3 linked regions of the Homo sapiens genome follow. The protein of the gene in region 3 interacts with the protein of the main gene of each other region in a biochemical or structural test. Each region holds a gene or a part of one and is shown on either strand. Other genes may lie near its edges. The genes, in order: PCBD1, SRPK2 and ACIN1.

What was found.
Region 1: the proteins of ACIN1 (region 3) and PCBD1 form a complex in vitro, tested with the Homo sapiens proteins (one study listed by BioGRID).
Region 2: of the proteins of ACIN1 (region 3) and SRPK2, one has a biochemical effect on the other in vitro, tested with the Homo sapiens proteins (one study listed by BioGRID).

What each region holds. Positions count from the first base shown.
Region 1 is NC_000010.11:70,885,513-70,893,556, forward strand, and holds the start of PCBD1 (pterin-4-alpha-carbinolamine dehydratase), read right to left. Parts: upstream 3,054-8,044; 5' UTR 3,022-3,053; coding exon 3,019-3,021; intron 2,370-3,018; exon of another isoform or gene 2,341-2,369; intron 418-2,340; coding exon 286-417; intron 1-285. UniProt on the Homo sapiens protein: Involved in tetrahydrobiopterin biosynthesis. Seems to both prevent the formation of 7-pterins and accelerate the formation of quinonoid-BH2. Coactivator for HNF1A-dependent transcription.
Region 2 is NC_000007.14:105,385,913-105,393,076, forward strand, and holds the start of SRPK2 (SRSF protein kinase 2), read right to left. Parts: upstream 3,010-7,164; 5' UTR 2,895-3,009; coding exon 2,879-2,894; intron 2,791-2,878; coding exon 2,736-2,790; intron 1-2,735. UniProt on the Homo sapiens protein: Serine/arginine-rich protein-specific kinase which specifically phosphorylates its substrates at serine residues located in regions rich in arginine/serine dipeptides, known as RS domains and is involved in the phosphorylation of SR splicing factors and the regulation of splicing.
Region 3 is NC_000014.9:23,078,073-23,085,177, forward strand, and holds part of ACIN1 (apoptotic chromatin condensation inducer in the nucleus), read right to left. Parts: intron 4,143-7,105; exon of another isoform or gene 3,765-4,142; coding exon 3,676-3,764; exon of another isoform or gene 2,738-3,675; coding exon 1,475-2,737; exon of another isoform or gene 1,388-1,474; intron 967-1,387; coding exon 748-966; intron 626-747; exon of another isoform or gene 195-625; coding exon 79-194; intron 1-78.

The sequences.
Region 1 (8,044 bases), on a different chromosome or scaffold from region 3:
GATGTGCATGGTTTCCACTTGAACTATCTCCTCAGAAGACTGCTGCTAAAAGTTCCAGGAAGGGAGAGCCCAAGACACATCCTCCTATGGCTCTCCAATCCCCAAAGATGATACTTTCTGAGTTAGACAGGAAAATTAATTTCCCCACTGGCACAGTGCCCAAATAACTGGATGAGTGTGGTGTCTGAGAGTCTTGGCTAACAAGACGTGAAGGGAGAGAACATGCTTTGTAAGGTGACCCCATCAGCCCGTCTCAGAAAACTCTGTCCCACCCTGGTGCCATACCCTGTTGAAGTCTTTGAAATGAAACTGCTTGAAGATGGCATCACGGCCTTCCAGCTCATTCCACCCCACAGCCCTCAGGTTTGGCAGCAGCTGGTCCCTCTCCTCAGCGCTCAGCCTGTGTGCTTTGCCAGCCTAGAAGAGGGAAAAAAACAGAGGCCCAAGGGCATTTCTCTTTATAGGTCAAAACAGAGGGGCTCCAACCTTTAGGGGAACTTAGCTTCCACTGGCTGCTTTGGACGTGGGTGACCAAAGGGCAGCAGGTCTTTGAGCAATAGGCTGGGAGGCCTCAAGGGTGGCACCCTGCCCAGGAGGTGGGGTCCAGGCTCGTCTGCCGATAGGCCCTCAGGTCTTGGGTTTTAACACTCCACACACACACAAGGGAAATCACAAAAGCAATGTAATTCATATGACGGGGACAGAGAAGCACTCTTCCCCCACCCTGCCCTCAAAGCCTTACGGACCTTCCCTCCATGAGATTATTACATCAGTGAGGGCGTAAAAGCAAAATAAATCCCAGATGCAAATATGTTACTCCACAACCTCTCAGGAAGAGTACCCATGACTCTCCCCCCTTCCTTTTCCTATTATGTACTTCATCATATGCACCCCACGTCCCTACCGTAACTTTCACGTGTATTGAAGAGGAAACAGGCCTAGAGAGGGGAAACGACTTGTCTGCTGTTCTTTCCCGCCCACCCCTAGCCAGTGATGGCGCAGTGTTGTCTGTGTGTCAGCATTGCTGGGGCTGGACGAAGGAGCTACATTTAAAATAAGTGTCCATCCCATTCTTAGCCACACTGCAGCTGACCGCCGTTGGCACTACCTCTAGTAGGTCCTCAGTCATGCTCCCAGGCAGCCTCTGGTCCTGAGCCGCCAGGGCTAGGTTTCTCTGGTTTTCCGTCTGCTTTTCTGGCTGGTTGGGAAGCTCAGGCCAAAGTGGAAGGAACTTGGCCAAAGGCAGCTGGCAAACCTAGTGCCCCATCCTATTTACCTAATGTGCGAAGTGCCCTCAAGGCAGCCCAAATTGGCACAATTCAGGCCATGAGTGGAACCTCAGAGAAAGCAAGGAAGCAAGGGTCAGTTTCATCCTAGGAGGATCCAGGTCTAGGAGCTTAACAGATCCCAGAACCTAGGCTTCTAGAGTAGCACCACCCCAGGGCAGAAATAGAGTGCTGAATTGAAAAGATACCCTTAGGGGTGGGGAGGGAATGTGAGGGAGGTTGATTTAGCTTTTATGAGGCAGCCTGCAGACTGGACACCATGTGTTGATTGGCAGGAGTTTTGAGACCCGCTTTCACCATTTACCAGCCAGGTGGCTGTACCTCTCTTGGCAGAACCTCCACCTCCACAGATCATCATGAGGTGCCAATGGGACACTTTAGGAAACTCCACTGCTATAAAGCAAATGTCATCTGCATTACAAAAAAAAAACTTCCTAAGGCAAGCAGGCTTGTGATGGGCCTGGTAGCATTTGGGGTAGCTGAAGCATCGCAGTGCTTTCCTAAGTCCGTCTTTTTTCCCTGCTGTTTTCCCTCCTGAAAACGTGAGCTCTCTCTGGACTGATGTAGCTTGGCCCCTCTCTTCCCCTCGGCTCTGGATGACTATAGGGATTGAATGGCAGCAGCGATTTGCATCATCTGCCCAGTAGGTAGGTCTCTACTCCAGAGCTGGCCTTCTCCCCGTGGCTGACCGCCTGGTCCGTGTATCTAGACAACCAGAAGTCAGCCAAAGCATCAGAGCCCACTGTTTACTTCCTTGGCTCTTAAAGGGGTGGGTGAGTCCAGGTGAGCTCTTAGGAGGCTTCCCTTTCTCGGTAGAGCCTTCTGGAACCCCCCAGGTCGCACAGCCTGCGGCTGAACTGACAAACCTTCCAGGTGCCGGCTCTGGAGACAGAGAGGGGGACGCTGCCCCGTTTGCCTCCTCTGGCGAGGTGTGGGGAGTGGTTACCGATTTCCCAAGCCTGCATCTCTGGGACCTCAGCGCCCCTCACAAACAGCCCCACTCATCCTCCCTCCCCCAAGTCCCTCTCCTATCAAAAGGCCCTCCCAGTCTTGCCTGCTCCGAAGGCCTGTGGACCAGAAATGGTCTGATGAAGCTCGCGAGCTTACAGCAGAGCAAGGGCCCCGCCCCCGCCCCCGCCCCGGGGGTGGGTGGGGGAAGCTCACGGGAGGAGGGCTGCTCCAGCGCCACCAAGCCCCCGTGGCCTGGCACGGGCCTCAAGCCGGCGCGGGGAGTGGCTCTGGGGCCAGCATACCGGCGCAGAGCGTGAGTCCCAGGCAGACCCCGTACCCAGAGTGCCAGCGGGAAGGGGCAGCGGACAGGCACGCACACGAGCGCGCAAACTCAGCCTCCCTCTCGCTCCCACCCCAGTATAAAGCAGAATCGGGCCACCAAGGGGACGAGATCCGTGGACTCCTCCACGACTGTCTTCCCCGGCCCAGGAAGGTCGTAGGCCCCGCCCCCGGAAGGGTCCCGGAACAAGCACTGGCCGGGGTCAGGGCAGGCCTGGCCTCCCAACTGGGTGGGATTCGAACCCGCCACCGCCCCTCTCAGGGCTTCAGCTTCCCCTCCCCGCCGCCAGCGACAGAGAGCCGGGCAGAGACCCCACTTTCGGACCCCGGCGGCTCCGCAGGGGACTCGAAAAGACTTTCCCCCGCCCCTTCCCGCTCCCACCTCGCCCGCGGCTGCCCCGGCCCCGCTGCCCCGATCGCGGCCGCGCACCCCTGGACTCACCATGGCGCGGGCGGCAGCAGGTGGCCAGCGGAGAGGGCAGGCGGCGGCCGGGCGCGCAGGCTGCCGTCCCGGGGCGGGGCCGCGCTCGGGCCGCCCTCCGGTAATGATTAACGTCCCCAGCCAGGGACGCGCTCGGCCTGCTTGCTTCCAGCACTTTCCTCGCTGCTCAGAGCCATCCTCCGTGCTTGTTTCAGGGAGCTAGGGTGAAGCATGAGGGCTCCAAATGCCCGCTTCTGGGTTGGAATCCCACCCCGCCGCTTACAGCTGGGTGGCCCTGGGCGCCAGAATACCTATTTTTTTCTTTATAAAAATCTCTTATTTGGATATAATTGACATGCAATAAATTGCACATATTCAACGTGTACAATTTGATAAATTTTAATGTTTCCCTCGTGAGACCATCACCGAGATCAACATTATGAACATATCATCATCCCTGCAAGTTTTCCCTTGCCCTTTGGTAACCCCTTCCTCCCGAAACCACCTGGCCAGGCAAGCACTGATGTACTTTAGGTCACTATAAATTAGTTTGCATTTTCTAGAATTTTATGTAAATGGACCATAGAGTATATACTAGGCAGGATAACTGTTTTGGGGTTCAGCCATGTTGTTGCCTATATCAATGGTTTCTTCCTTTTATGGCTAAGTAAAATTTATTTTATAGTATTGCATTGTACAGATAGACTACAATTTGTTTAGCGATTCACTATTGGACATTTGCGTTGTTTACCTTTTGGCTATTACAAATAAAGCTGCTGCGAATATGGTGCACAAATCTTCGAAAGTACGTATGTTTTAATTTTCCTTGAGTAAACACTTAGGAATGGAATGCCTGGGTCATGTGGTAGGTGGACTTTTATAACTTATTAGGAAACTGCCATACTGTTTTGCAAAATGGTTGTATCATTTTATATTCCTAGCAGCAGTGTATGAAGGTTGCAGTTCTCTGTCCTCACCAACACTTGATATAGTCAGCCTTTTAAATTTTAATTGGTGTGTAGCAGTATCTCATTGTGGTTTTGAGTTTCCTTGATTAGTAATTGTATTGAATGTCTTTTCATGTACTTATTTGCTAAGGATAAGTTTTTTTTATTGAATAGCATGTTTGAATTTCCTGCCCATTAAAAAAGAAATTGGGTTGTCTTCTTATCGAGTTTTGAGGGTGTTTTATTCTGGATATAAGGACATGATCAGGCAGTGATTTGCAAATATTTTCTTTGCATTATCTTATGGTGCCTTTCAAAGAGCAAACGTTCTTAATTTTGATGAAATCCAATATATCAAATGTTTCTTTTATGGATTTCTATTTTGATGTTGTACACATAGAAATCTTGGCCTAACCCAAGATCAAAAGTTTTCTCCTATGTTTTATAGCTTTTGGTTTTACATTTAGTCTGTGATCCACTTTGAGTAAATATTTTTATATGCTTCAAGTTATAGATCCAGATGCACTTTTGCACATGGCGACTCAGTTATTCCTTTCTCCACTGAGTTGTCTTTGCACCTTTGTAAAATATCAATTGACTGTATACATGTGGGTTTATTTCTGAGCCCTTTCTTCTGTTCCATTGATCTGTTTGTCTGTCATGACAGAACACTACCTTGTCTTGATTATTATAGCTTTATAATAAGTCTTAGAGTCAGATTAGAAAAGTCCTCTCACATTTCACATTTTTCTATTAACTTTTATTCTTGTGCTCCACTTTTATTCCCCGCCCCCCACCACCGCCCATAGCAGCCTCTCTAATGTGTTAATGTGTATTTTTGTTTGCACAGGTTCTTGCAAAATGTGTGGTGTTGTTTCGTCTATGTGTATTTTTAAATTTATGTAAATGGTATTATGTAAATATATTACATTTCTCAGTCTGTTTCTTACAAAACAGAGTATTTAGTGGAAAATTAAGATCTACCCATGTTGCTATATGTATATTCAATCTGTAGCTTTTAACTGCAGCCTAGTATTTTGTAATGAGAATCTGCCATGGGTTTCTTGTTCTATCAGTGATGGACACTCAGGTTCCCTTCAACTTTCTGCTGCTACCACCACCTCCCAAGCCCGTGAGCATGTGGGCACACAAACACATACGTACACAGAGTTAAACAACAATGCTGCTGCAGTGAACATCTCTAATTGCTCCCTGGGCTGTGGGCAGTTTCTTAGGCAACTTAAGTATATCCATACCCTATAAATCCAGCAATTCCCCCCATGGGTGTGTATCTCAAAATAGTTCTAGATGATGTCCAGGATGGGGACACCAGTCCTCATTCTCTCCTGCATGGTGTGAGGGGGTACTATTTCCATATGCATCTTACACATACATACTCACACTTCCCATTAGCCAGCTTTTTATTTTTTTGTCAGGCTAATAGCTATAAAATGAGAGCTTGTTGTGATGCAGGATTTTTCTTGACCCCTTTGCTGAGGTTGCAGCAGGGAGTGCCTTATCTACTCAGCTTGCCAGGCCCCATCTGGCTTGTGTTACAGCCCATGGCTCACAAGGCCACTGCGACTGTATGCTCAGCCCCTGGCGGGAGGGAGCATGTGACCGAGTGAATGCAGGGTCCAGCCAGCTGCACTGAGCCATGACACAGGAACAGGCTCTGTGTGGGGCCCACAGCCAGATCAGGTGTGTCACCCCAAGGAGACTGTGGCAGCACCCAGGCAGGGGTGCCTGAAGCCCCAGAGAGGGGTGTTACAGTGTGCTAAATAGCTCTTTTATCTCCACCATCTGCAGCCTGATGGACAGCGGCATGTTGGCAGCTCAGGCGGCCCCTTTCTCCACTCTGGCCCGTGGCTCCTGGACCAGCTTGGCCCTGCTGCAGCTTCTGTTCTGTGGGGCAGCTGCCCTCCACCAGTGAGGGTAGAGGGCCAGCGTTACAGCCTTTGTGGGTGCCCACATTTGGTGGGTCCTGAGCTCTTGTTCTGCATCCAAGAAGAATGAGGTCATGCTGACAGTTGAAGGGTGATGAGGATGGAGAATTTTATTGACGATGAAACAGCTCTCAGTGGAGAGGGATTGAGAAGGTGGGGTTGTCTATCTCAGTGTGGCTGAGTCTAGGGGGTTTTATAGGCACAGGATTGGGGAGGGGCGGGCTGTAGGTAGTATTAGAAAAGGCAACATTTGATTGGTTAAAAAGCATTATTCAGAAAGAACCAATCAGGAAAGGGTGGGCAAACAGGAACAGAAGTTCTCACCCTGGTTTGAGGGGTTTCATCCCAAACCAGCAGTCCAGGCTGTTTTTGGCTTGAAGGTGGGGTTTCACTGGGGACCCACCCCCATCTGCCTAGGAAATTGTCTGCCTCCTGCCGCTTTCAATTGTTTTACTCTACATTGTTTTCTGATGACTAATGATTTTGAGAACCTCTTCATATGCTTGTTACCATTTGGGGGTTACTATTTGTGAATTGCTTTTTAATATCCTTTGCCAATTTTTGAGAATTTTTAGTGCTCTCTTTTTTTAGTTGGTTTGTGGGTGTTTATATAAAATCTAGACATTAATTGCTTGTCAGTTTTGATATTGCAAATATCTCCTCTCATTCTGCCATCTGTATACTGACTTCTTGCATGAGATCCATGATGTCTGTGGGCAGAAATCTTATATTTTGGTGTAATAAGATTTATCTTTTTTCCCTCTGCCTTATAATTTTGTGCATTTGAAAATTTATTTGATAAGTCCTCTCCCCACCCTGCTACAAAAATATACTCCCTTTTCTTTTGTTAACTTTATAGTTAGATAGATTTAAGACCTAAATGTGAAAGGTCCCTTTTGGTATGTAGTGTTAGGCAGGATGTTAGTCTCCAAAGATAGCCCCCAATGAACCATGACTCCCAATATTCACACCCTGCATAGTTCTCACCCATGTTGAATCTGGGATGGCCCAGTATGACCAGTCAAATATGGCAGAAATGTCACCATGTGACTTTGTTTTGATACAGTGTCTTGCTCTGTCGCCCAGGCTGGAGTGCAGTGGTGCAATCATAGCTCATTGCAGCCTTGACCTCCTGGGCTCAAGTGATCCTCCTGCCTCAGCTCCCCCAGGTAGTCACCATGCCTGGATAATGTTTTAAATTTTTTACAGAGACAGGACATTTCTATGTTGCCAGGCTGGTCTCAAATTCTTGGGCTCAAATGTTGGGCCTTGGCCTCCCAAGTGTGGGATTCCAGGTGTGAGCCACCACATCCAGCTATAACTTCTAAGACTAAGCCAAAGAAACTCTGGGAACTGTTAATCATTCTCCAGCCACGTGAGTGAGACTCTTGGATGCTCAGACCTGCCAAACCTTCAGATGACTTCAGCCCCAGGAGACATCTGACTTCAATCCCACGTGAGGCCCCAAGTGAGACCAGTCAACCCGTGGAAGCATGAGAAATCATAATTTTTGTTTTAAGCCACTCAGCATGATGATTTGTTCTGCAGCAATAGGAACAAATGGCAGGAACAAAATTTGGTGCCTGAAAGTGGAATGTTGCTATAAAAGCAACCTAAAATGTGTAGCGTTAGGTTGAGAATGGGTGGTGAGAGACGGTGGAAGGAAAGACTTAAGGACAGCAAGAAGTATTCACCTTCCATCCAGGAGGCAGAAAGCCTTGCTATCATACTTAACAATGAGAAAAGACTGCATGCACTACAAAGTCATCACTTTTCTTGAGCTCACCAGGGAGGTGAGCTCACAGGGCAACCAAGTATCCTGAATTCCAAGGGGGCAGGTCCCTCCAAGGAGAGGCAGGATGTGCAGTCTGGCTCACTTGGGCAGTGCTTGGAGGAAGGGGCAGCCTCCATTAAAGTGGGTAAGAAGAAAGAAATCAGTTCAGTTTTAACAAATTGTTGGAAGCCAGGTGTGGGCTGGCGTGTCGGTCTGAGACAGCAGGGGGCCCAGACAAGGTGAGAGTTTGCACACACTAACTGCTTCCTCTCTGTGCATGCTCTCAGAGTGCTCATCCGGTGAGGGAGTGGGGAAGGATGAGGGAAGGAGAGGGACCCACTCAGTAGTGTGGGGGCTGAAGGGGCTGTTTTTGCTGTGGG
Region 2 (7,164 bases), on a different chromosome or scaffold from region 3:
CATTTTCTTCCTATCCCTTAGCCCTATCTGAAATTATCTTGTCACCCTCTTTGTGGTTTTCCCCAAACCTCCCAAGGTTAGCTTTGCAAGGAGCTTTGTCTTGTTCAAAACTCTATCACCGGCCGGGCTTGGTGGCTCACGCCTGTAATCCCAGCACTTTAGGAGGCCGAGGCGGGCGAATCACGAGGTCAGGAGATCGACACCATCCTGGCTAACACGGTGAAACCCCACCTCTACTAAAAATACAAAATATTAGCCGGGCGTGGTGGCGGGCGCCTGTAGTCCCAGCTACTCAGGAGGCTGAGGCAGGAGAATGGCGTGAATTCGGGAGGCGGAGCTTGCAGTGAGCCGAGATCGCGCCACTGCCCTCCAGCCTGGGCAACAGAGCAAGACTCGGTCTCAAAAAAAAAAAAAAAACAACCTCTAACACCATCTCCGAAGACAGACATGTAAATACCTATTGAAGACATGAATAAATAAATAACATCAAACAGTTCTTTTAAATAATATCTTGATTCAGGTCGGGCACGGTGGCTCACACCTGTAATCCCAGCTGTGTGGGAGGCCGAGGCCGGTGAATCACCTGAAGTCAGGAGTTGTAGACCAGCCCGGCCAACATGGTGAAACCCCGTCTCTACTAAAAAATACAAAAAAAATAGCTAGGCTTGGTGGCGGGTGCCTGTAATCCCAGCTACTCAGGAGGCTGAGGCAGGAGAATCCCTTGAACCTGGGAGGCGGAGGTTGCAGTGAGCCAAGATTGGGCCATTGCACTCCAGCCTGAGCGACAAGAGCGAAACTCTGCCTCAAAAAAATTATTAAATAAAATTATGACTTGATTCAAAGAGTTAAGTGAAAAATGGCAATGCCTCAATCAGTTATATAATTGGGCTGGTCCCGTTACCTTACAGACTAGAGCCAGTTCGTTTCATCATTAGCTGGTGTGTTATTTTCCCCCTCAAATTCTATCACATATACACAATACACAGTGGGAGAAACTGGCAGATTAATCTGTGAGAGGAAAAGCTGAGTACTGTGGCTATTCACTAAGTCTTCATCAACATACCACATAAATCCAAACTGCGGCCCACCAAAAAGGCCCTCGACCATTAGGAAAATCATACTCTAATATATGCAAATACAAGACACATATTGACTTAATTAGAACTGTTTTTCCACATGTACGTAAAGGTAACATGCACATATACGTGTCTATTTGTATATACATGCACACATAGCCATCTCCGACACTGGGGTCATACTTTTTCCACTTGTTTTTATGTTTCTGAGTATAACAGACTACGTGGAATTAAATCAATGCTTTGAATTAAGAGCTGTGATTAAAACACAGTACTTATTCAGAATCCTAAACATTACAGTTCTCCTTACCACTGGGTAAACTTCCATGGTTCACCAAAGGAAATCTCAAATTTAAGGTTGTAATTCACTTGAAAGCTAGCACTAATTTTTTTAAAAGCAACCAAAACTACCAAAAATCCAGTCCATTTTAACATCTTATGAATTCAATATCCAATTTTTACCGACCAATTAGTTCTTCAACTCTTTAGGAAGTGCTTTCCCCTTACTCTAATGGTTTTTTCTTTTTTTTTTTTTTTTAAGGTATTTTTAAGTCACTATCCACATTTTGTGAAACTGAAGGACCAAGGCCAACGAGAAGGGGAAAAAAGTGAGCGTGCTGCGACGTACCCCTCAAAGGAAACAACCAAAAATGTTTCTGGATTTTATTAAAGATAATGCTGGATTCTCGTTCCCCACAGTACCAAAGATGCCACACAGAGTATTCTTGCTCAAAAGAGCGAAGCAATTAATCTAGAGGAAGAGATAACGATGTCGAACGCTGGTAAATCAAAAAAATTAGGAGAGAGGAGTGGAAAAGGAGAAGACGCGGCGGCGCTGTGCGGTCTCGGAGCAGCTCTCCAGGAAAGGGTTCTTGGGCAGCGGCCCCCCTGCTCGGGTGAGCGGCCAGGCTGGAGGTGGCCGCCACGGGCGCGTTTTCCACTCCGACCGGCTCCCGCGCACACGCCCACCGCCCTGCGCAGCCCGCGACCCCGGCGCCCGCAGCGCACCCAAGTCACGCTCAACCCGAGCGGAAAGTTTCGAATCCAAACCCGAGAGCCGAAACGCACAGGTCTCGGGGCTGAACTCGCGCCAGGAACACGCCCGAGGCAAACCACTTGACAACCAGCTTAGGTTCTCAGCAGAAAGGCCGACAGGCGGGGGCCGGGGAGGAAGGGGAGGCGAGACACACGCCCTCCCGCACACTCGGCCCCTCCGCCTCCTCGGCCCGCGGCTCAGGTGGGAGCAACGCAGCCGCTGCACTCCCGCAGCGGGCGGGCCGGAGCCCAGCGGCAGACGCCGGGGCCCCTTCCGGAAAGGGCCGCGACCCCCGGGCCAGCTCGCGGGCAAGGGACGGGTGCGCACGCCCTGCCCGGCGCCTTTCCGCCGGCCTCCCGCCCGCCGGCCGGTGGCGACCCGGGGCGGGAGGTCGCGGGGTCGAGGCTCCGTGATGCTAGGGAACCGGCCGCGGCCCGCGCGCCCCTCCCCCGCCGCCGCCCCTCCCCCCGGGCCGCCCGCCGGGGGCAGGAGCCGAGCGCCAGCGTCCCGGGGGACCAGCCCGCCCGCCGGCCCGGGGACCCGGACAACTTTCCCCTGCGCGGCCGCGGGCGCCCCCGACGGGGCGGGGGTGGGGAACGGGGACAGGCGCAGCGTGGACTCACTTTTTCGGATGTTTCTCTCTTTTCGGCCTCCGCTTTCGGGCCTGAATGGCCAGCACTGGGGAAGAGAAGACACACATTAACGGTCGGGCCGCCCGCCCGGGCTGGCCGCGTGGCGGGGAGAGGGCGCGCCGCGGGCCACTCACCTTTCCGGGAGCTCATTCCGACGCGGCGGAAGCGGGGCGGGGGGCTTCGCGACGGCGACGCGGGCGCCGAGACGAGCTGGGCTGCAGCCTCCACTCGCTCCGCCGGCCGGGAGGAGACGAGAACCGCGCCTGCGCCGCCGCCGCCGCCGCCGCTCCAGCAGGGACCCAGCAAGACCCGCCCCCGTCCGGCCCCGCCCCCGCCCCGCCCCCACCCGCCGGCCCCGGGGGTCGGGACCCCAGCGCCGCGCGCCCAGCGCCCCGCGCCCCCGCCCCACCCACCTGTGCAGAAGTGGCCGCCGCCCATGGCCGCGCTGGCCCTCGGCCTCCCCCACCCCAGCCCGCGGCCCGGGCCTCCGCCTCCTGCGATCCTGCGGCTGGCCCAGGCCGCCCGCCTCTCCCGGGCACCGGACCCGCGGGACCCTCCCTCCCCGCCGCGGCCTCTCCCCTCCGCACCCCGGCCGGTCGCGCCGCCCGCTGCTCCATGCGCCCGTCCTTGGCCGGCGCCTCCGCGGGTCTCGCACCACCTCTCTTCCCGCGGCCTCTTCTCTCCCTTTGCTCCTCTACATCCTTGCAACCCCATGAGCGCCGCTTCCTCCTCTCCGGCAGGCGTGGAAAGGGCACACGACCAAAAGCTGGGAAACCTGGGTCCGCGATTAGCGGTGTGACCTTGGAGAAGTCATTTTCTCTCCCACCTCTAAGTGCCCTCCAGGATTGCATGAGTTTAATGAAGGAAAAGATACAGATAGCATTCAAGGTAGGACAAAGGTTTTGCACATGAATTGAAACTCGCTTCCGTAAACACCAGGTGTATAACAATTCAAAACAACAATCACACCAAGTAGTTATTTTCTGCATCCTACAATGAGGAAACTGAGTCCCAACGAGGTTAAAAAGTTTAACCAGCCAGGATCGAAATTCAGGCCTGGCCGTCGACAAACCACCTTATCAGGCTGCCTACAAAAGATGTGAATCAAGTTGATAGTGACACAAAAAGATAACTGCAATGTTCTCTTATTTATGTAAATAATTACAATAGTTTTTGAAAGATACGCATTCTGACTATTAACTCCCTCATTGGTCACACAACTGTATCTTTGACAAGGTGGCTTACACTAAGGATGATAAATCAGAACGGGAAACTCTGCTTGGATTTTGAAGAGTCCTTAACTTTTTATATTCAAAAAAATATCAAACCCTATAGAAAAGTTACAAGGAAAATACAATTAACAGCCAAATTAACCCATATTCACCAATTTTTAACATTCTGCCACATTTGCTATCTATGTGTCTGTGTGTATGGTTTATTTTGCTGAATCACTTGAGTTTTTGTAGACACTGTTACCCTTTATCCCTAAATATTTCAGTACATATCTACTAAGAATAAAGATAATCTCCCACATAATCAGAATTCCATGATCACTCCAAGAAACTTTCATACTAATACAATGTAATCATCTGTAACATACAGGCCATATATATTCAATTTTGCAAAATATCCCAGTAATATCCCTTGTCGCTGATTTTCTTTTTTTCCCAATTAGTCTACCATTAAGGATCATCCGTTGCATTTAATTGTCATGTCTTTTTAAACACCTTTAGTCTAGAATCATTCTTGGTTTTGTGTTTTGGTTTTCTTTCTATTTATTTATTTATTTTGAAATGGAGTCTCACTCTATCACCCAGGCTGGAGTGCAGTGGCGCAATCTCAGCTCACTGCAACCTCAGCCTCCCGGGTCCAAGCCATTCTCCTGCCTCAGTCTCCCGAGTAGCTGGGATTACAGGCATACACCACCACATCTAGTTAATTTTTGTTTTTGTTTTTTTTTTTTTTTTTTTTTTTTTAGTAGAGACAGGGTTTCACCCTATTGGCCAGGCTGGTCTCGAACTCCTGACCTCGGGTCATCCACCCACCTCAACCTCCCAAAGTGCTAGGATTACAGGCCTGAGCCTCGGCACCCAGCCTTTTTTTGTTTTGTTTTGTTTTGTTGTTTATAACATTGACTTTTTTGAAGAATCCAGTTCCACCATTTTGCAGAATGTTCCCTGTTTTGGATTTGTCTGTTTCCCTATGATTAGATTCAAGTTAAACAATTTTGTTGGCTATACTATAGATGATGTTGTATTCATCTTAGTGCATCAAAATATGATGTCAGTTTGTTCCATTACTGGTGATGTTACAGTTAATTATTTCTCCAAGATACAGGTACCTTTTCCCTCTGTATTTAAGAAGTCTGTATGAAAAATGAGCAAAGGATTTGAATGGACATTTCTCCAAAGACATGCAAATGACCAAACTAGCATGTGACAAGAGAATTAACATCATTAGTTGTTAGGAAAATACAAAGCAAAACTATAATGAGCTACTACTTCACACCTACTAGGATGACTATAAAATTTATTTATTTATTTATTTATTTATTTATTTATTTATTGAGATGGAATTTCGCTCTTGTTGCCCAGGCTGGAGTGCAATGGCACGATCTCAGCTCTTCGCAACCTCTGCCTCCCAGGTTCAAGTGATTCTCCTGCCTCAACCCTCCGAGTAGCTGGGATTACAGGCATGTGCTACCACGCCTGGCTAATTTTGTATTTTTAGTAGATCTGGGGTTTCTCCATGTTGGTCAGGATGGTATCGAACTCCCAACCTCAGGTGATCCACCTTCCTTGGCTTCCCAAAGTGCTGGGATTACAGGCATGAGCCACTGCGCCCGGCTAAAAATTTTTGTAATGGAAAATAAGGCCAAACGTGATGTCTCACAAGTGTAATCTCAGCATTTTGGAGGCTGAGGCTGGAGGATCATCTGAGTCCAGGAGTTGGCGGCTGCAGTGAACTATGATCGCACCACTGCACTCCAGCCTGGGCAACAGAGTGAGACCCCATCTCAAAAAAAAAATGTTAATGGAAAAAAAGTGTTGGTGGGGATTTTGGAACCCTCATATGTTGGAAACATTGAAACCCTCCTACATTTCTGGTGGGAATGTAAAATGGTGCAGTTATTATGGAAACAGTCTGTTGGCTTCTCAGAAAGCTAATTATAGAATTAACAGCAATTCCACTCCTAGGTATATATGCACAAGGACTGAAAACAGATACTCAAACAAATCTTTGTACATGAGTGTTCATAGCAGCGCTATCACAGCCAAAAGGTGGAAAAAACCTAAATGGTCATCCATAAATGAATGGATAAACAAATTGCGGTATATACATACACTGGAATATTTTTTTGGCCATAAAAAGAATTTAGTACTGACACATGCTACAATGTGGATGAACATCAAAAACATTATGCTAAATAAAAGCAGCCAGACACAAAATGTCACATATTGTATGATTCCATTTATATGAGATATCCAGAATAGGCAAATCTACAGAAAGCAGATTGGTGGTTGCCAGGAGTTGGGGGGTGGGAGAAGGAGGGAGCAACTGCTTAATGGGTACCAAGTTTTATTTTGGTGTGATGAAGATGTTTTGGTGCTAGATAGAGGTGGTGGTGGCACAACATTGCTAATAGACTAAAAGCCACTGAATTGTTCTCTTTAAAGTGGTTTCTTTCATTTAATGTGAATTTCACTTCAAAACAAAACAACAAAGTTACTTGTGTGGGGTGATACTTTGAAACTGTGTGAATATCTCTTCCCTGACAATATCTCAATGGGTTGGCATCCATTGATGATTCTTGCCTAAATCAACTATTACCACACTGGTTGTAGAACAGTGATTTTATAATCCTATCATTTTTGAGATGGGCATCTTGCTCTGTTGCCGAGGCTGGAGTGCAATGGTGTGATCTCAGCTCACTGTAACCTCCACTTCCCAGGTTCAAGTGATTTTCCCACCTCAGCCTCCCAAGTAGCTGGGACTACAGACGCACACCATTTGTATTTTTAGTAGACACGGGTTTTCACCATGTTGGCCAGGCTGGTCTGAAACTCTTGGCCTCAAGTGATCCACCTGCCTCTGCCTCCCTAAGTGCTGGGATTACAGGTGTGAACCACTATACCCAGACTTAAGTGATATTCTTTTTTTCTTTTTTTTTTTTGAGAGAGGGTCTTGCTCCGTCGCCCAGGCTGGAGTGCAGTGGTGTGATCTCCGCTCATTGCAACCTCCGCCTCCCAGGTTCAAACAATTCTCCTCCCTCAGCCTCCCAAGTAGCTGGGACTACAGGCATGTACCACCACACCCGGCTAATTTTTGTATTTTTTTTTTTTTGGTGGAGAGGGGAAGGGAAGTCTCGCTCTGTCGCCCAGGCTGGAGTGCAGTGGCGCGATCTTGGCCTAACGCAACC
Region 3 (7,105 bases):
TCAAAGAACCCTAGGGAGCGAAGAACTATCGCACACTCATAGTTCCCTGTTATACCCCGGTCGAGATATATCACTTACACAGTGTGATGAATTCTTTCTGATTCTGGCAGATGAGAGGTCTGAGTCTCTGAGGTTTGGGGCTGTGTGGCAGCTGGTGGCTCTGCCTCTTCAGCTTCACACTTCTTTGGGCTCCCCTGTCAGGAGATAGCAAAAACGAACAGAGCAAAACATTTAGATCTGCTTGGTTCCTTTTCTTCTACCTGGAGCCTGAAAAAGGCAGGGCAGGACATACACAGTACCAGCTCCACACACGGCCCTCTGTATCTGTTATTTCATTTTAGAATAAGGAAAGGAACATGGCTTAAAAATAGGTACTTCAAGAATATTTATGCCAGTAATCATTTTATCAGAATTTTTAATTTTTTTCCTTTTCCTCAGTGATCCTTGTTCTGACAGAATTCTTTTTTGAGAGAACTGAGAAAAGGCTGACTTCCTTTTGGCAGATAAAAGGAGGAGTTATGAGGAAGAATTGACCCTGGGGGCCCTGGAGATAACCCTGCTGCTCAGCCTCATGTAGAACTTCTACGAACCAGGGAGCTGGAAATGAGTTAAGCAGGATTAACAGGTATCCACCACATTTCTACTGAACCTTGTCCAGACTTAACTTTTTAGTTTTATAGCAAAGACAAGAGGGAAGATCTTGCTTAATCCTCCATCTCTGTGTAGGGAGGGGTCACAATAGCCTACCCGCTCAGGCTGTAACCTCTGGGTCACATGCTTTTCAGCTGATTCAGGCTGACTCAGACGCCTTGCTTGGACAGAGGATGAGGAGGTGGAAGTCCTCTCCTTTGGCTCACAGACCTGCAGTTGTGGCACTGGTGGAGTTGCAACCTCCTGACCAGAAGAGGGATCTTTGGTTTCAGTATAGCTGGTGCTGCTGTCCCTGGAGACTCCAGGGCTCAGAGACTAAAACAAAATGAAACACATAACAAGGAAAATTATTGTATATGGTATATATTCAGTAGATTGCTGAGTTTTCCAGTTTCCATGGACCAAATTTTATACTCTGGACCTTTTTGTCTGTGTTTACTCCCATTTTGTCTGTGTTTATTCCCATTTAGTGGTCTCCTTGACCACTTATTTAACAAATTATTAAGTTTTAACTAGATGCTAGATCCTGGGACACACACGTAAAAGGGCATGCCCACATCCTCAAGAAGTTTCCATCTAGTGGAGGAGATGAGTACATAAATTCAACATTCTATCAAGGGACTCAAAATGAAAAAGAACCCCATTTCGGGAATCAGTTAATTGAAAATACGATTCTGAAATGAGGAGAAAGTAATCAGTGAAGGAGAGTAAAGGAGGCTTTTCCTATTCCTTTCAGAAATCATGACAGGCTCTCCAGGGGCTGAAATGAAAACCACTGGAATATGACAGAACATTAATACACCCGGGATTCTCTCATACTCACTTTTCTGCTGTTGCTTGATGCTGAACGAGAACGTGAACGTGACCTTGATCTGGACTCTGATGTTGATCTGGAGCCCATCTTGGGTCTACCACGAGGGTTGGCATGAGTACGTGCCTGGGCTACATCTCTCTGCTTGGATCTGAGCGGTGAATGAGACCGAGAACCTGAACTGTCAGGAGAGCGAGATCTTGATCTAGAACTGGAGGAGGAAGATGAGGAGGACCGGCTAGAGGATGAATCAGCTGACTGTTTCAATCTGTGGCTTGGGAGAAGGGTATGAGAAGCTCTTCTGCCTTCCTTCTGTTCCAAAGATGGCTGTTTCAGACATTCTTCAGTGATTCCTTTGGCCAGTGCTAATTCCTCAATTTTTAGAGGGAGGGGCTGAGCAGATCTGTCTGACTCAGGTTCAAGATCCTTCTGGGCTGAGTAGTCAGCCAGTGTGCTTTTCTGAACCAGAGGCAGGACACTCTCCTCTGGCACTTTCTCTGCTGGAGATTCTGCTTTGGTGTCTGAAGGACTTGACAAAGGAGACAGGCCTCCTACCAACTGGACAGTATGCTGAGATACTAATAGCTCCCTGGTGTCAGCATCTGTATTAGGAGGAGATAACTGAATGAGGACAGCGGGGGCTGGGCCTTCCATGGGCTCTATTTCTTCTTCGCTATGGAGCTGTGGATGAGGTGGTGGAGAAGATGCTTCCTTTGTTAGTAAAGGTGGAGGAGTCTCCTCCTCGCTGGCAGTTTGCTCTGGCAGCGCTACAAGTGAGGCCTTCTTTCGATCTTCAGTCAGTCGAGGAGGGGAAGGAGACTTCGATTTTTCCTTTAAGCCTTGTGAAGATTTTATTTCTCTTTCTTCCTCCTCAAGGGGAGATGTTGTTTTCATTTCCTTCTCCTGCTGCTGTCTGGCCAGATGACTTTTTCTAGCCTCTTCCTGGGATCTTGTAAATCTCCCTCCTCTCTCTAACACCTCCTGTTCCTGGGATCTTGTTTTGGGTCTCTCATCCATCATCTCCTCTGGTTTTACTCTAGGTATCTCTTCCCCTTCTTCCTTAAACTCTTTCAGGATTGGTGCCTCCCTAGATTTTTGTCCCTCATCATCACCTTCCTCTTCTTCATCATCTTCTTCCTCCTCCTCCTCCTCCTCTTCTTCCTCCTCTGTTTTCAAATTTCGATCTGCTCTGACCCTTAGGTTTCTGGAAGGTGTTTCTTGATCCTCTTCCTCCTCAGCAGGTTGGCTGCCCTCAGACAGTTTAGCTGCTCTTGCCTGAAAGAACAGATACACAATGGCTCCAAATGTATTTGCTCACAGTCAACAGAGGAGAGAAAGTATCTAATGAAGACACCCCTAGGAAGGAGAAATTCAATGATATATACTTTCAGCAACAGAAACAGGAGTGACAGGAGACAATCATGACTAACGTAGCCCTTAGGGGAATCAAAACAAAGTGACCAAAAGAAATATCACAATGAAGCTACTTGTATGTAGTTTAAATTTTAGCTTCAAGCACCCCCTTTTTTTTTTTTTCAGTAAAATATTAGCAGAACATCTGGAAAGTAAAAGGGTGGATAGGGGGCTGAAAGGAACTAACCTACTATCAATTAATACGATTATCTTTTTATCATTTTGGTATATTTCTTTTTGTTCTTTCCTCTAATCATTTCCTTTGTACAGTCATAATTACACTACACATAACATTTTTGTATTCTGCCCACTTAGTGTTATATAACTTTAAAGCTTTGATTGAATGGTTAATTATGTCATATCTTGTCTAATAATGTGCTTTAAGAATACAGAGCAGCCTGCTAATTTTCAAATTTAAACTTTTAAAAAATATTCACTTAGAAATCTAAAAGGCAGAGCAGATCTAAATAAAAAGACAAAACGAACAACAAAAAGATGACAAAGAGGAGAAGGAAGATAACCACAAAGAAATCTAGAGGCCAGGCAGTGGCTCATGCCTGTAATCCCAATCCTTTGGGAGGCTGAGGTGGAAGGACTGCTTAAGCCTAGGAGGTCGAGGCTGTAGTAAGCTGTGATTGTGCCACTGCACTCCAGCCTAGGCGACAGAGCCAGACTCTGTCCCAAAAAAGAAAAACAAAACCCCTAAATGTAGAGACATACAAACTCAAAACAAGTCTGAAGAAGAGAAGATATCCAAAGCATTACTGAAGAGGTAATGCTTTAGGAGGTATCTGAGTTACCTGTCTGACCCTAGATGATCGTCTTTCTCCTTTCCTTGGTTTCTCATCATCAGAGTCACCTTTCTCTTCAGAAATTGAGGAGCTTTTTCCTATTGAATGAAAAAGAATCAAGTCAGATTCATGAAGTGAAGACTCATTCATGGCTTTTTAAAAATCAGGCTTTCTAATATCCAACCAATTATAGCATATGAGCCTATCAAGACATATCTGTATCGGTTTCTTTGACTTCTACACTAAAGAAAAGACTACAAAAAGCCCTAACTAGGTCAGGGTCTTATTGGTAATTCTTGGTGTGCAAGTCTAGAATATTTTCAACACCTCGAAGCCAATTCACATGTTATAAATAACTCAAATAAATGTAAAATAATTTCCAGGGGCTTCAAACTGTCTAGCAGGGATGTACAAATATGAAGTGTACTTATTTCTACAAAGTGTTCTTACTCTGAATAAAGTTTAAGACTTCATTATGTTCTGTATCCATTTTTTTGGATTGCCTATTACTACTACTTTCTAATTTCAACCAAAATATTATGATGAAATATATGAATTTGCACAATAACAAACTCAAGAAATAAATACTTAGAGGAATGTTTTTCAGCGCCCTAAAGTTCCTGAAATTACTTCAAGCCAACTGGATGGGGTTTCAGAATTGGGTCCTGTCTATTAGGTTTTATGTATTAGAGCTCAATATTTTTTTTTTTTTTTTTTTTTTTTCTGAGATGGAGTCTCACTCTGTCACCCAGGCTGGATGCAGTGGTGCAATCTCGCCTCACTGCGACCTCTGCCCCCTGGCTTCAAACCAGTCTCATGCCTCAGCCTCCTGAGTAGCTGGGATTACAGGTGCCCACCACCATGCCTGGCTAATTTTTGTATTTTTAGTAGATATGGGGTTTCATCCTGTTGGACAGGCTGGTCTCAAACTCCTGACCTCAAGTGATCTGCCCGCCTTGGCCTCCCAAAGTGCTGGGATTACAGGCATGAGCTCACATGTTTTTCTTTTTTTTTTTTTGAGACAGAGTTTTGCTCTTGTTGCCCAGGATGGAGTGCAATGGCATGATCTAGGCTCACCACAACCTCCGCCTCCCAGGTTCAAGCGATTCTCCTGCTTCAGCCTACCGGGCAGCTGGGACTGCAGGCGCACGCCACCATACCTGGCTAATTTCGGTATTTTTTACAGAGGCGGGGTTTCATCATGTTGCCTAGGCTGGTTCGAACTCCTGGGCTCAAGCAATCCCCCCGCCTTGGCCTCCCAAAGTGCTGGAATTACAGGCGTGAGTCACCGCACCCGGACTAGGTGAGATTTTTTTTTTTTTTAAGGAAAAAAAAAGTTCTATTAAAAAGCTTGGAAACCACCAATCTAGGTTATCCTGAACAATAAATCCATGTAAAACGGAAAGAAAGTTTCACTCAAATTCCATGAAGGAAGGTAACTGGGTAAATCACTTAAGTAATTTGGGTCTCAATATCTTTCTTTTTAGACAGTGTTTTACTCTGTCACCCAGGCTGGAGTGCAGTGGCATGATCATGGCTCACTGCAGCCTCAGCCTCCAGGGCTCAAGTAATCCTCCCACCCCGGTCCTCCCAAAGTGCTGAGATTAAGGTATAAACCACTGTGCCCGAGTCTCAAATGTCATGATTGAGAAAAAGGAGGGGCTGCACTAGATGATTTCCAAATTTCCTACCAGAATTAAGATCAACTAGGCGGCCGGGCACGGTGGCTCACGCCTGTAATCCTAGCACTTTGAGAGGTCGAGGCAGGCGGATCACGACGTCAGGAGATCGAGACCATCCTGGCTAACATGGTGAAACCCTGTCTCTACTAAAAATACAAAAAATTAGCCAGGCGTGGCGGCAGGTGCCTGTAGTCCCAGCTACTCAGGAGGCTGAGGCAGAATGGCGTGAACCTGGGAGGCGGAGCTTGCAGTGAGTCGAGATCGCGCCACTGCACTCCAGCCTGGGCGACAGAGCGAGACTCCGTCTCAAAAAAACAAAAAAGATCAACTATGTACAGTAGCAATACTAACATCAATGAGAACCAGTTTAGAAAATAGCAGGAAGATAATTATATTCCAGATACTTGATCAGCTAGATTGGACTCAATGTTAATACAGTACAAAAGGTTCTGTACACAAAACCATGTTGTATAGTAATAGTGCAAATAAAGCAGATGGTATGCAGCTCTAACCCAAGATCTTCTCTCTTATTTTTTTTTTTTTCTGAGAGAGAGTCTTGCTCGTTGCCCAGGCTGGAGTGCAATGGCACGATTTCGGTTCACTGCAACCTCCGCCTCCTGGGTTCAAGTGATTCTCCTGCCTCAGCCTCCTGAGTAACTGGGACTACAGGCGCCCGCCACCACGCCTGGTTAACTTTTGTATTTTTAGTAGAGACGGGGTTTTGCCACGTTGGCCAGGCTGGTCTCGAACTCCTGACCTTGTCATCCTCCCCCTCCTTGGCCTCCCAAAGTGCTGGGATTACAGGTGTAAGCCACCATGCCCGGCCTTCTCTATTTCTATATCCTTACAATCTAAAATGAACTAGGCGAATGCTTCTGTAATAATAATTAAAAAATCAAAATGAGGCTGGGCACGGTGGCTCATGCCTGTAATCTCAGCACATTGAGAGGCCGAGGCGGGCAGATCACGAGGTCGGGAGTTTGAGATTAGCCTGGCCAATTAGGTAAAACCTCATCTCTACTAAAAATACAAAAAAAATTTTAGCTGGGCGTGGTGGCGTACGCCTGCAGTCCCAGCTACTCAGGGGGCTGAGGCAGAAGAATCGCTTGAACCTGGGAGGCAGAGGTTGTAGTGAGCCGAGATGGCGCTATTGCACTCCAGCCTGGGCGACAGAGCGAGACTCCATCTCAAAAAAGAAAAAAAAAAAAAAAAACCCAAAATGAAACTAATGAAATCAATTAGAAGACTACACATATTTTGTAAAACTTTACTTCATGATCATTTGATTAAAAGGACCTCTGAGTATATACCATTTCGTATCTGGGTAAGTGAAGAAAGATTTGTGTTATGGTTGTTCATACAGGATATATGATTAGAATATATAGTGAAAGGCCAGACTCTTTAGCAAACATTTGAAGACATCTGTAAGACAGTAGTGCAGTGAAATGAAATACTCATTTCATAATTCAGTGATCTGAAATAGGCTAAGTTATAAAATAAGTAAAACCAAAATAAAAAGTTTTCATAAATGTTAGGCAAAGTTCCTTCACAAGTATCAGTGAAAGAAGCTGATTTATCTCACACACACCAAAAAAAAAAGGCAAGTGCAAGGTTGGTCAGAGATAAATGTGTTAAAGTCAACGCTGGGCGCAGTGGCTCACGCCTGTAATCCCAGCACTTTGGGAGGCCGAGGTGGGCGATCACGAGGTCAGGAGATTAAGACCATGGTGAAACCCCGTCTCTACTAAAAATACAAA